Regions from separate parts of the Homo sapiens genome. Here region 1 is linked to region 2. The links come from fine-mapping of genetic effects on gene expression. A gene starts in region 2. The other region holds a variant in brackets. All regions are shown on one strand. Distances are between the middles of the regions.

Region 1 (5,380 bases), 910 kb after region 2:
AAATTAAAAATAGAATTACTACATGATCAAGGAATTCCACCTCTGGGTATATACCCAAAACAACTGAAAGCAGGGCCATGGACAGATATATCTATATTCTACCACAGTATACCTATGTTTATAGCAGCATAAACAGCCAAAAGGTGGAAATAATCTAAGTGTCCATGGACAGATGAATGTATAAACAAAATGTAGTATATCCAGACTATCAAATATTATTCAGCATTAAAAAGGAGGAAATGCTGACACATGCTACAACATGGATGAAAATTAAAGATATTATTCTAAGTGAAATAAGCCAGCCAGGAAAGGACAAATAAGGTACGATTCTACACTTACGAAGTACTAAAGAATCATAGAAACAGTAGTAGAATGATGTTTGCCAGGACCTGGGGAAAGGGAGTCATGGGGAGTCATTGTTTAAAGCAGCAGTCTCCAGCCTTTTTGGCACCAGGCAATGGTTTTGTGGAAGACAATTTTTCCATGGACAGGAGTGGAGAGGGGGATGGTTTCAGGATGAAACTGTTCCACCTCAGGTTAGATTCTCGTAAGGAATGCACAATCTAGATCCCTCACATGCACAGTTCACAATAGTTATTGCTCCTATGAGAATCTAATGCCTCTGCTGATCTGACAAGTGGTGGAGCTCAGCAGGTAATGCTCATTCACCCTCCACTTACCTCCTGCTGTGCAGCCCAGTTCCTAACAGGCTGGGGACCAGGAGTTGGGGACCCCTGCTTTAATGGGTACCATTTCAATTTTACAAGATGAAAAATGTTTTAGGTCTGGCATGATGGCCTGTAATTCCAGCACTTTGGGAGGTCAAAGCAGGAGTATTGCTTGAGCTCAAGAGGTCGAGACCAGCCTGAGCAACAAAGTAAGACTCTGTCTCTACAAAAAGTTTAGAAATTGGCCAGGTGTGGTAGCACATGCCTGTCGTCCCAGCTACTTGGGAGGCTAAGGTAGGAGGACAGTTTGAGCCCGGGAGGTGGAGGGTGCATGAGTGGAGATTGAGCTACAGCACTCCAGCCTGGGTGACAGACTGAGACATGTCTCAACAAAAGAAACAATTTTTGGAGATAGGTGATGGTGATGACTGCATAATGATATGAATGCACTTAATGCCACTGAACTGTACACACTTAAAAATGGTAAATTCTATGTTATGTATATTAAACCCAACAATTAATTTTAAAAAGGAATGAAATACTGTATATGCTAGACCATGGATGAACCTTGAAAACATGCTAAGTAAAAGAAGCTACACACAAAAGGTTGTATATTTTGGCTGGGGGCAGTGGCTCACGCCTGTAATCCCAGGACTTTGGGAGGCCAAAGTGGGTGGATCACGAGGTCAGGAGTTCAAGAACAGCCTGGCGAACATGGTGAAACCCCGTCTCTACTAAAAATACAAAAATTAGCCATGCGTGGTGGTGCATGCTGCCTATAGTCCCAGCTACTCGGGAGGCTGAGGCAGGAGAATCACTTGAACCCAGGAGGCAGAGGTTGCAATGAGCTGAGATCACGCCACTGCACTCCAGCCTGGGTGACAGAGAGAGACTGTCTCCAAAAAAAAAAAAGTTATATATTTATCGTATGATTCATTTTATATGAAATGTCCAGAACAGGAAAATTCATAGAGACAGAAAGTAGATTAGTGGTTACCAAGGGCTACACGGGGTAAAAAGGGAGTGACTGCTAATGGGTACATGGATTTTTGGGAGGGTGAAAAAATTCTGGAATTAGACAGTAATGATGCTTACATAACCTCATAAATATGCTAAAATCACTGAACAGGCCAGATGCGGCAGCTCACACCTGTAATCCCAACACTTTGGGAGGCCGAGGTGGGTGGATCACCTGAGATCAGGAGTTTGAGACCGGCCTGACCAACATGGCGAAACCCCATCTGTACTAAAAATACAAAAATTAGCTGGGCGTGGTCACGGGCGCCTGTAATCCCAGCTGCTTGGGAGGCTGAGGCAAGAGAATTGCTTGAACCTGGGAGGCGGAGGTTGCAGTGAGCTGAGATCAAACCACTGCACTCCAGCCTGGTCTACAAAGTGAGACCCTGTCTCAAAAACAAACAAACAAACAAACAAACAAAAAAACCCCACTGAACCGAACTGCATAATTTAAGAAGGTGAGTTTTATAATCTGTAAATTATATATCAATAAAATTGTTACTTAAACACTACATGCATGTACAAAACATTATGTATAAAAACAAAAAGGAATAGACATTAGTAAAACAGTAAAGAGGTCAGATATCCAGGAAGGACCATATGTGACCACTAAAATATATCCCACAAAATAAGGTTCAAATATTGTTGACATTAGGTTGAATTCCAAAATATTAATATATTTGCTGTCAGATTAGGATTAGATTTAGTTTTCTACATTTTTAGAAATGTAATTAGATTTCAAATGAGAATATTTGTGGTCATGATGTTAGAAAGTAGGTCTCCTAACTTTCTTTTGCTGCCCTCAGAGAAAAGTTAAAATAACTCTAAATCCCACATTAGAAAAAAAATTCAGATGTGAAAAAAGGAATTGATTGCAAATAGTTGTAAGGAATCATACAGGGGTGAACAAAATGCTCTTAAACTGGATTGCTATGATGGCTGTGCTATTCTGTAAATCTACTAAATATCATTTTTAATTTCTAGCTGGCTTTAAATAGCTACAGATAACTGGACAAAAGCTGTTTTCTCTATCCATTCTGATTGTACTTACCAGGTATGACTTCTGGGTAGCCAATTTTCTTTCCCAACTTTTTCAATGCAGAATTTCTGTGGTCCATTGCTCCCTAAAACATAATGAAATCATAAACAGTTTGTTAGTATAGTGGATCTCAAACTGTGTTCCCCAATCCAACAAGCATCAGCATCATGAGGGAACTTGTTAGAACCATAAATCCTCAGGCCCCACACATCATCTTACTAATTCAGAAACTCTGGGTTAGGTGTGGTGGCTCATGTCTGTTATCCCAGTACTTTGAGAGGCAAAGGTGGGCAGCTCACTTGAGGTCAGGAGTTCAAGATCAGCCTGGCCAATATGGTGAATCTTGATCTCTACTAAAAATACAAAAACTAGCCAAGTGTGGTGGCGTATGCCTGTAATCCCAGCTACTCAGGAGACTGAGGCAGGAGAATTGCTTGAATCTGTGCAGCAAAGTTGCAGTGACTCAAGATTGCGCCACTACACTCTCGCCCGGGTGACAGAACGAGACCCTATCTCAAAAAAAAAAAAAACCAAA[A/C]AAAAAAAAACCAAAAAAAAAAAAAAACCCAAAAAACCCAAAAGCAACCAACAAACAAAAAAGAAACTCTAGGGGTCAGGCTCAGCAATATGTGCTTTAACAAGCTTCCGGGTGATTCTGGTAAGTGTAAAAGTTTGAAGACTATAGTTTGTTAATATAAGTCCCAAAGGAGAAAATGCAGTTTCATCTAGCATTCTTTAGCCGGAATAACACATTGTTATGATTAATAAAAGCTTACACAAGAACACACAAAAAGCTTAATTTTAGTAGTTTGAAAGACAATAACGAAACTACAATAAAACTTGATTTAAATACAGAATTAATAAAACTTTGTGAAATGTAAATATCCTAGTGAATTCCATATTATTAATGCTGGAACTTACAGGTCCTGTAGGGCATACCCTTACAAAAACAGATACAAGTATAAACATAAAATACTTGCCCCTCATTTACCTGCTGCTGGAGATAGCTGTGAAAAGTGATCATAAAAACACCAGTTTTTTAAAAGATCATTACTTTTCCCTAGGAAGCATTTATTGTTGGTCTCAATGACTGGTAATGCTACTAGATATTTTAATTAGAAGGGGGCAGGAACGCTAACTGTTCTGTAATGTGTGACACTGTCAGACACAAAGAACTTTCTCATGTCCCACCTGACTAAACCCTGTATACTAAGTATACCCAATATAAATTGTTAGTGCTTTTGTATTTAATAACACTGAATTGTTTTCACAAGTAGTTATGTAAAAAGTCCAGTAATATAGGAAACGTTATAAAAAAACACAGTTAAAATTATTCTGTGGTGTTCAACACATAAATTAAAATTAACTCACTCTGCATGTTCTCTCTACTCAATATATATATTTTTTGAGACAGAGTCTCACTCTGTCACCCTGGCTGGATGGCAGTGGCACAATCTTGGCTCAATGCAACCTCCGCCTCCTGGGTTCAAGCAATTCTCATGCCTTAGAGTAGCTGTGATTACAGATGTGCACCACCACACCCAACTAATTTTTGTATTTTTAGTAAAGATGGGGTTTTACCATGTTGGCCAGGCTGGTCTTGAACTCCTGGCCTCAAGTGATCAACCCACCTTGGCCTCCCAAAGTGTTGGGATTACAGGCATGAGCCATCATGTCCACCCTCTACTCAATATTTTATAGCATTTTCTTTTTTTTTTTGAGGCGGAGTCTCCCAGGCTGGAGTGCAGTGGAGCAATCTTGGCTCACCACAACCTCCGCCTCCCAGGTTCAAGTGATTCTCCTGCCTCAGCCTCCCGAGTAGCTGGGATTACAGGTGCCCACTACCACACCCGGCTAATTTTGTATTTTTAGTAGAGATGGGGTTTCACTATGTTGGCCAGGCTGGTCTTGAACTCCTGACCTCAAGTGACCCAACCGTCTCGGCCTCCCAAAGTGCTGGGATTACAGGTGTGAGTCACTGTACCTGGTCACATTTCATTTTTTATAAATTTTTTTTTTTTTTAAGACACAGGGTATCACTATGTTGCCCATGCTTAAGTGCAGTGGCTGTTCACAGAAGCAGTTATAGTGCACTACAGGCTTGAAATCTTGGGCTCCAGCAATTCTCCTGCCTCAGCCTCCAAATAACTGGGACTACAGATGTGTGCCCACCATACCTAGCAGCATATTTAACTACATAGATGGAAAGGAGTTTCATTTAATAATGCACATTAGTATGTAACAGAAAGGATTCTGAATTGCTTTTAATAGATTTAAAATCAAATATTAAAAACTCTGACACTGTCCCTAAACCATACAACTTCTGTGTAGACTTTTGTACCTATGTTCCTATTTTCAGCCACCTTTCAAATGTTATGGTCTCCGAGGCTTTTTTACATGTTAGAGCCTTGGCCTATAGTAGAATTTCATGACAGGAGATATATTCTGATACTATGCTTTTAAGATCTACCTCATTTTTCTCCACCTTGACCATCTATAATTTATTTTTGCAGGTGTATTATTCATACTTTATTTAGGTTACTTCCCTCCTTTTGTTATCACATATACTTAAGTCTATTATTTATCTTTCTCATCTGTTCTTTTATTTTCCAGTACTACTTGTCTTTTTTTTTTTTTTTTTGAGAGATGGAGTTTCGCT
Region 2 (5,380 bases):
CATGGTGGCACGTGCCTGTAGTCCCAGCTACTTGGGAGACTGAGGCACAAGAATTGCTTGAACCCAGGAGGTACAGGCTGCAGTGAGCTGGGATTGTGTCACTGCACTCCACCCTGGGCGGCAGAGCAAGACTCTGTCTCAAAAAAAAAAAAAAGTGATTTATATATATAATGGAATGCTATTCAGCCTAAAAGAAGAAGGAAATGCTGGCCAGGTGCGGTGGCTCACACCTGTAATCCCAACACTTTGGGAAGCCAAGGTGGGCAGATCACCTGAGGTCGGGAGCTCAAGACCAGCCTGACCAACATGGAGAAACCCCATCTCTACTAAAAATAAAAATTAGCTGGGTGTGGTGGCACATGCCTGTAGTCCAGGCTACTTGGGAGGCTGAGGCAGGAGAATTGCTTGAACCCGGGAGGGAGAGGTTGCAGTGAGCCAAGATTGTGCCACTGCACTCCAGCCTGGGCAACAAGAGCAAGACTCTGTCTCAAGGAAAAAAAAAAGAAGGAAATGCTCATATCTATGACAACATGGATGAACTGGGAGGATGTTATGTTAAGAGAAATAAATGAGGCACAGAAAGACAAACACTGCTTGATTTCTCTCATATGTGGAATATAAGTTGAACACACAGAAGTAGAGAGTAGAATGGTGGTTACTAGAGGCTGAGGAGATGTTTGTCAAAGGATACAAAATTTCAGTTAAGAGAGATAAGTTCAGGAGGCCACTTTGGGAGGCCAAGGCAGGCGGATCACCTGAGGTCGGGAGTTCGAGACCAGCCTGACCAACATGGAGAAACCCCGTCTCTACTAAAATATAATATTAGCTGGGCGTGGTGGCGCATGCCTGTAATCCCAGCTACTCAGGAGGCTGAGGCAGGAGAATCACTTGAACCCGGGAGGCAGAGGTTGCAGTGAGCCAAGATCACGCCATTGCGCTCCAGCCTGGGCAACAAGAGTGAAACTCCGTCTCAAAAAAAAAAAGAAAAGATCTATTGTATAACATGGTGACTATACCCACTATGAATATGTATTGTATTCTTGAAAATTGCTTAAAGAACATATTTTAAACATTTCCAGCACAAAAATATGAGGTAATGCATATATTAATTAGCTTGACTTAGCCATTTCACAATGTATACATATTTTAAAACATCCTGGCCGGGGGCACGGTGGCTCACTCTTGTAATCCCAGCACTTTCGGAGGCCGATGTGGGTGGATCACCTGAGGTTAGGAGTTTGAGACCGTCCTAGCCGAAATGGCAAAACCCCGTCTCTACTGAAAACACAAAAATTAGCCAGGCGTGGTGGTGCGCATCTGTAATCCCAGCTACTTGGGAGTCTGAGGCAGGAGAATCGCTTGACTTGGGAGGTGGAGGTTGCAGTGAGCCGAGATTGAGCCACTGCACTCCAGCCTGGGCGACAAGAGTGAAACTCTGTCTCAAAAAAAAAAAAAAAAAGAAAAAAGAAAACATCCTGTTGTACACAATATATATTTTTTGTCAATTAATAAAAATCAATAAATTTAATTAAAAAAATAGTCGAGTGAAGTTATTTCCCATGACTAGCTCCTCTTCTTCCTTTAGATTTCATCTTACATGTCACTTTCTTGGAGAGGCCTTACCAACCTAACCAAAGTAGCTCCCCAGTTTTAATTTTTTTCACTGGGTTCCTATGCCTCCCCCACCAGTCTAAGAACTCCATGAAGCCAGTATGTCTTGTGTTCAGCACATAGGGAAGACTCAATAGGTCTTTGTTGACTGAATGAAATGAAAGAAGTCCTTCAACATCCTGCCCCTCTGCTCCCTCAACCCCCAAAGCACCAGTACTTTGTCTTCTCTTCTCTTGGGATGTAATGGAAGAGGAGTCTTCTACCAAGGCCGTTCTCTGCCACTTTCCTCAAGAAGCTCCTTGCCTCTTTGATTGATTCTCCTGTATACTCTTTTTTTTTTTTTTTTTTTGAGACGGAGTCTCGCTTTGTCACCCAGGCTGGAGTTCAGTGCCCCAGTCTCAGCTCACTGCAACCTCTGCCTCCCGGGTTCAAGCGATTCCCTGCCTCAGCCTCCCAAGTAGCTGGGATTACAGGCACACGCCACCATGCCCGGCTAATTTTTTTCGTATTTTCAGTAGAGACGGGGTTTCACCATATTGGTCAGGCTGGTCTTGAACTCCTGACCTCAGGCAATCCACCTGCCTCGGCCTCCCAAAGTGTTGGGATTACAGGCATGAGCCACCGGGCACGGCCCTGTATACTCTTCACTAATCTTTTCCTATCAATATGCAAAGATGTTTCCCTTAAACAACCAACCAACCACAAATCCCAAAAGTTTCTTCCTCTACCAGGCTTCAGATCGGCACATGACCGCCTTCTTGCCTTGACTTTCAGGAGTCTGGTATCCCCCGTATTCTTTTATCTTAGCCTCCTTCTCTGGCTTTTTTTTTTTTTTTTTTTTTTTTTTTTTTGAGACAGAGTCCAGTCCTGCTCTGTCGCCCAGGCTGGAGTGCAGTGGCGCGATCTCGGCTCACTGCAACCTCTGCCTTCAGAGTAGCTGGGATTACAGGCACACACCAACATGCCCGGCTACTTTCTTTGTATTTTTAGTTAGGGACGGGGTTTTGCCATGTTGGCCAGGCTAGTCTCGAACTCCTGATCTCAGGTGATCCGCCCGCCTCGGCCTCCCAAAGTGCTGGGATTACAGGCGTGAGCCACCGCGCCCGGTCTTCTGGCTCTTTCTAAAGATTGGGATTTCCTAAAGTCCTGTTCTTTTCAACCTCCATTGAAAAGTGTTGGGGTGGAGTTTGGGAAGGAGGGGCTGAGGAGTGAGGCTGGGTTAGGTGGGGAATAAAGAGAGGGATATGAGAAGCCCCGAGGTCTGGGGTCAAGGAGACAGGCGTGGGGGAAGGATTTGAACCACTGTTACGTGTAGTGGGGGAGACAGCAGGGAGAGCGTGCCCGGGCACGACAGCCTGGTGCACAGCCGAGAAAACAACAGCGCGTGCGCGTAGCGACCTCTTTGCGCCTGCGCCCCCCTTGCCAGTCTTTCGCCGGCAAAAGGAGGACGTAGAAAAGGGGACACCGGAAACTCACTCTTCACCCGGAAATGGTTATTGAGGAACATGGCGTTGCTGGTGCGAGTCCTTGTGAGTGAAGGAGTAATTTTCTACGGTAGCTCTCTGGGTCCCGGGTTGGAGTTCGACAAGGCAGGGCGGGAGGAATTGGAAGGAATCGCAGGAGGGAAGCCTGTGTTATAGCTAGGCTGAGTGGCCGCTTTTCCGTGGGGAAACTGAGGCAGCTTCCGACCTCTTCCTACCCCGTTTTGACCTTAGCTCCCCCATCTTTCGAGAAGGGGAAGACTGACATCTGGCCTTTATTTGATGGGGTTTACTTTTCCTTCCCTCCCCCATGTACCTGCTTCCCCTCAGGGAGAGGAGCATGTAGGACACTGATTGGAGTTTCAGGAGGCCTGGGTTCTAGTCCCTGACTGTCACTGATGCATAGTGACTTTAAGCAAGTCACTTTTGGGCCTCATTGACCCTATGTGAAAAACGAGGACATTTATCTCCTGCAGTCCCTTTAGATTCTGAGATTCTCAGGGTTTCTTTCATAGGTAATAAGTCAGTTCTTAACTGTACAGTTAAGTGGAATATAGATTATTAGATTGAAAGCTGCGTGAGAATTGGAGTCATGTCTGTCTCCGTCGTTTTCACTTTGCCTAGCATGGTGTCTGGCACATCATAGGTGTTAAATGATTACTTGTTGAATAAATGAATGAAGTAAGGAAAGACTACCAGACTCTTTAGCACCCGTGTGTGAAACTACTGCACCTCTTGAGATTTAGTCCTGACCCTTCTAGCATACTCTTTTCTCTAGCAATTAAAGGAGAAAAGAAAGTGGCAGCAGAAAAAACGTTAGGATACAGAGCTTAGTTTTTAATCATGGAGGGATGGGAGAGTGTATAGTTTTAGCGAGTCTTCAAAAACTGGGTCAAAGACACTGTTTTTCATAGTAGACATGGTCTATTCCTGTGTCTAGGTAACTTCTGAATTGTTATTTTACATTTGTGTTTTTGATCTTTTTATATATGTCTTACAAGGACGACAGTTTTACTTCTTGTATTCCTTGCCAGCCTAGCAGAGTGAGGTACCCTCGACTGCTGTTCAGTAAATATTTATTTGTAGAGTAGCCCCTGTAACTGCCAGAAAGATTCACCTGGTGAAGTGATTGTTTGATTTCAGGCCAGAAATTGATTCAGAAATGAGGACTGCTGGGGAAATGGCAATTAGAATGTTCTGAATTTAGTGGTTTTTTTTTTTTTTTTTTTTTTAATCCTTCCCCTGCCACCCTTTAGGGTTTTGTTTTTTTTTTTTTTTTTTTTGAGGCAGAGTCTTGCTCTGTCGCCGAAGCTGGAGTGCAGTGGTGCCATCTCGGGCTCACTGCAACTTCTGCTCCCGGGTTCAAGCAATTCTCCTGTGCCAGCCTCCCGAGTAGCTGGGATGACAGGCATGCACCACACCACACCTGACTAATTTTTGTATTTTTTTTTTTTTTGAGATGGAGTCTCGCTCTGTCACCCAGGGTGGAGTTCAGCGGTGTGATCTCGGCTCACTGCAACCTCTGCCTCCTGGGTTCAAGCAGTTCTCCTGCTTCAGCCTCCCAAGTAGCTGGGATTACAGGCGCCTGCCACCACACCTGGCTAACTTTTGTATTTTTAGTAGAGATGGAGTTTCACCATGTTGGCCAGACTGGTCTCGAACTCCTGACCTCATGATCCGCCTCCTGCGGCCTCCCAAAGTGCTGGGATAACAGGCATGAGCCACCGAGCCTGGCCTGACAACTATCATTTTATAGGGCACTTACTACGTGCTAAGCACTTTAAAATACTTACCTAATCCTTATAACATCCCTTTGGAAAGGAGGGCGTGTTATTTCCTCTATTTTACAGATAAGAAAACTGAACCACAGAGAGGTATTCCTGGCCAGGTGCCGTGGCTCACACCTGTAATCCCAGCACATTGGGAGGCTGAGGTAGGTGGATCACTTGAGGCCAGGAGTTCAAGACCAGCCTGGCCAACGTGGTGAAACCCTGTCTCTACTAAAAATACAAAAATTAGCCAGGCCTGGTGGTGGGCGCCTGTAATCCCAGCTACTCGTGAGGCTGAGACACGAGAATTGCTTCAACCCAGGAGGCGGAGGTTGCAGTGAGCTGAGATTGTGCCACTGCAGTCCAGCCTGGGTGAAAGAGTGAAACTCTGTCTGAAAAAAAAAAAGAAGTATTCCTGAAACATTCTTGTTAGTCTTGCTTTATTTTTTCCTCTTTTTGTCTTGTCAGCCAATATTTTCCCTTCTCCAGTGATGGTTTTGGGAAGGAGGAGGAAACTAA

The links. PIP is the estimated chance that this variant, and not a neighbour inherited with it, causes the effect. A credible set is the group of variants that fine-mapping cannot tell apart.
Region 1: its variant is the best candidate, but not a certain one, in a credible set for the expression of UQCC1 in whole blood (TwinsUK, PIP 0.73).

The regions. Positions count from the first base shown.
Region 1 is chr20:34,501,760-34,507,139 of GRCh38, reverse strand. ITCH (itchy E3 ubiquitin protein ligase) reads right to left here. Exons shown (of 25, transcript NM_031483.7): 24 at 2,737-2,809. Among named protein-coding and RNA genes, the nearest start is that of DYNLRB1, 12 kb to the left of the region's middle. The variant A/C (reference allele first, on the strand shown) is at 3,260.
Region 2 is chr20:35,409,700-35,415,079 of GRCh38, reverse strand. UQCC1 (ubiquinol-cytochrome c reductase complex assembly factor 1) reads left to right here and starts at 3,107. Exons shown (of 10, transcript NM_018244.5): 1 at 3,107-3,140. The coding sequence starts at 3,117. RefSeq lists enhancers at 2,872-2,921, 2,129-2,951, 3,052-3,201, 3,262-3,361, 2,952-3,775.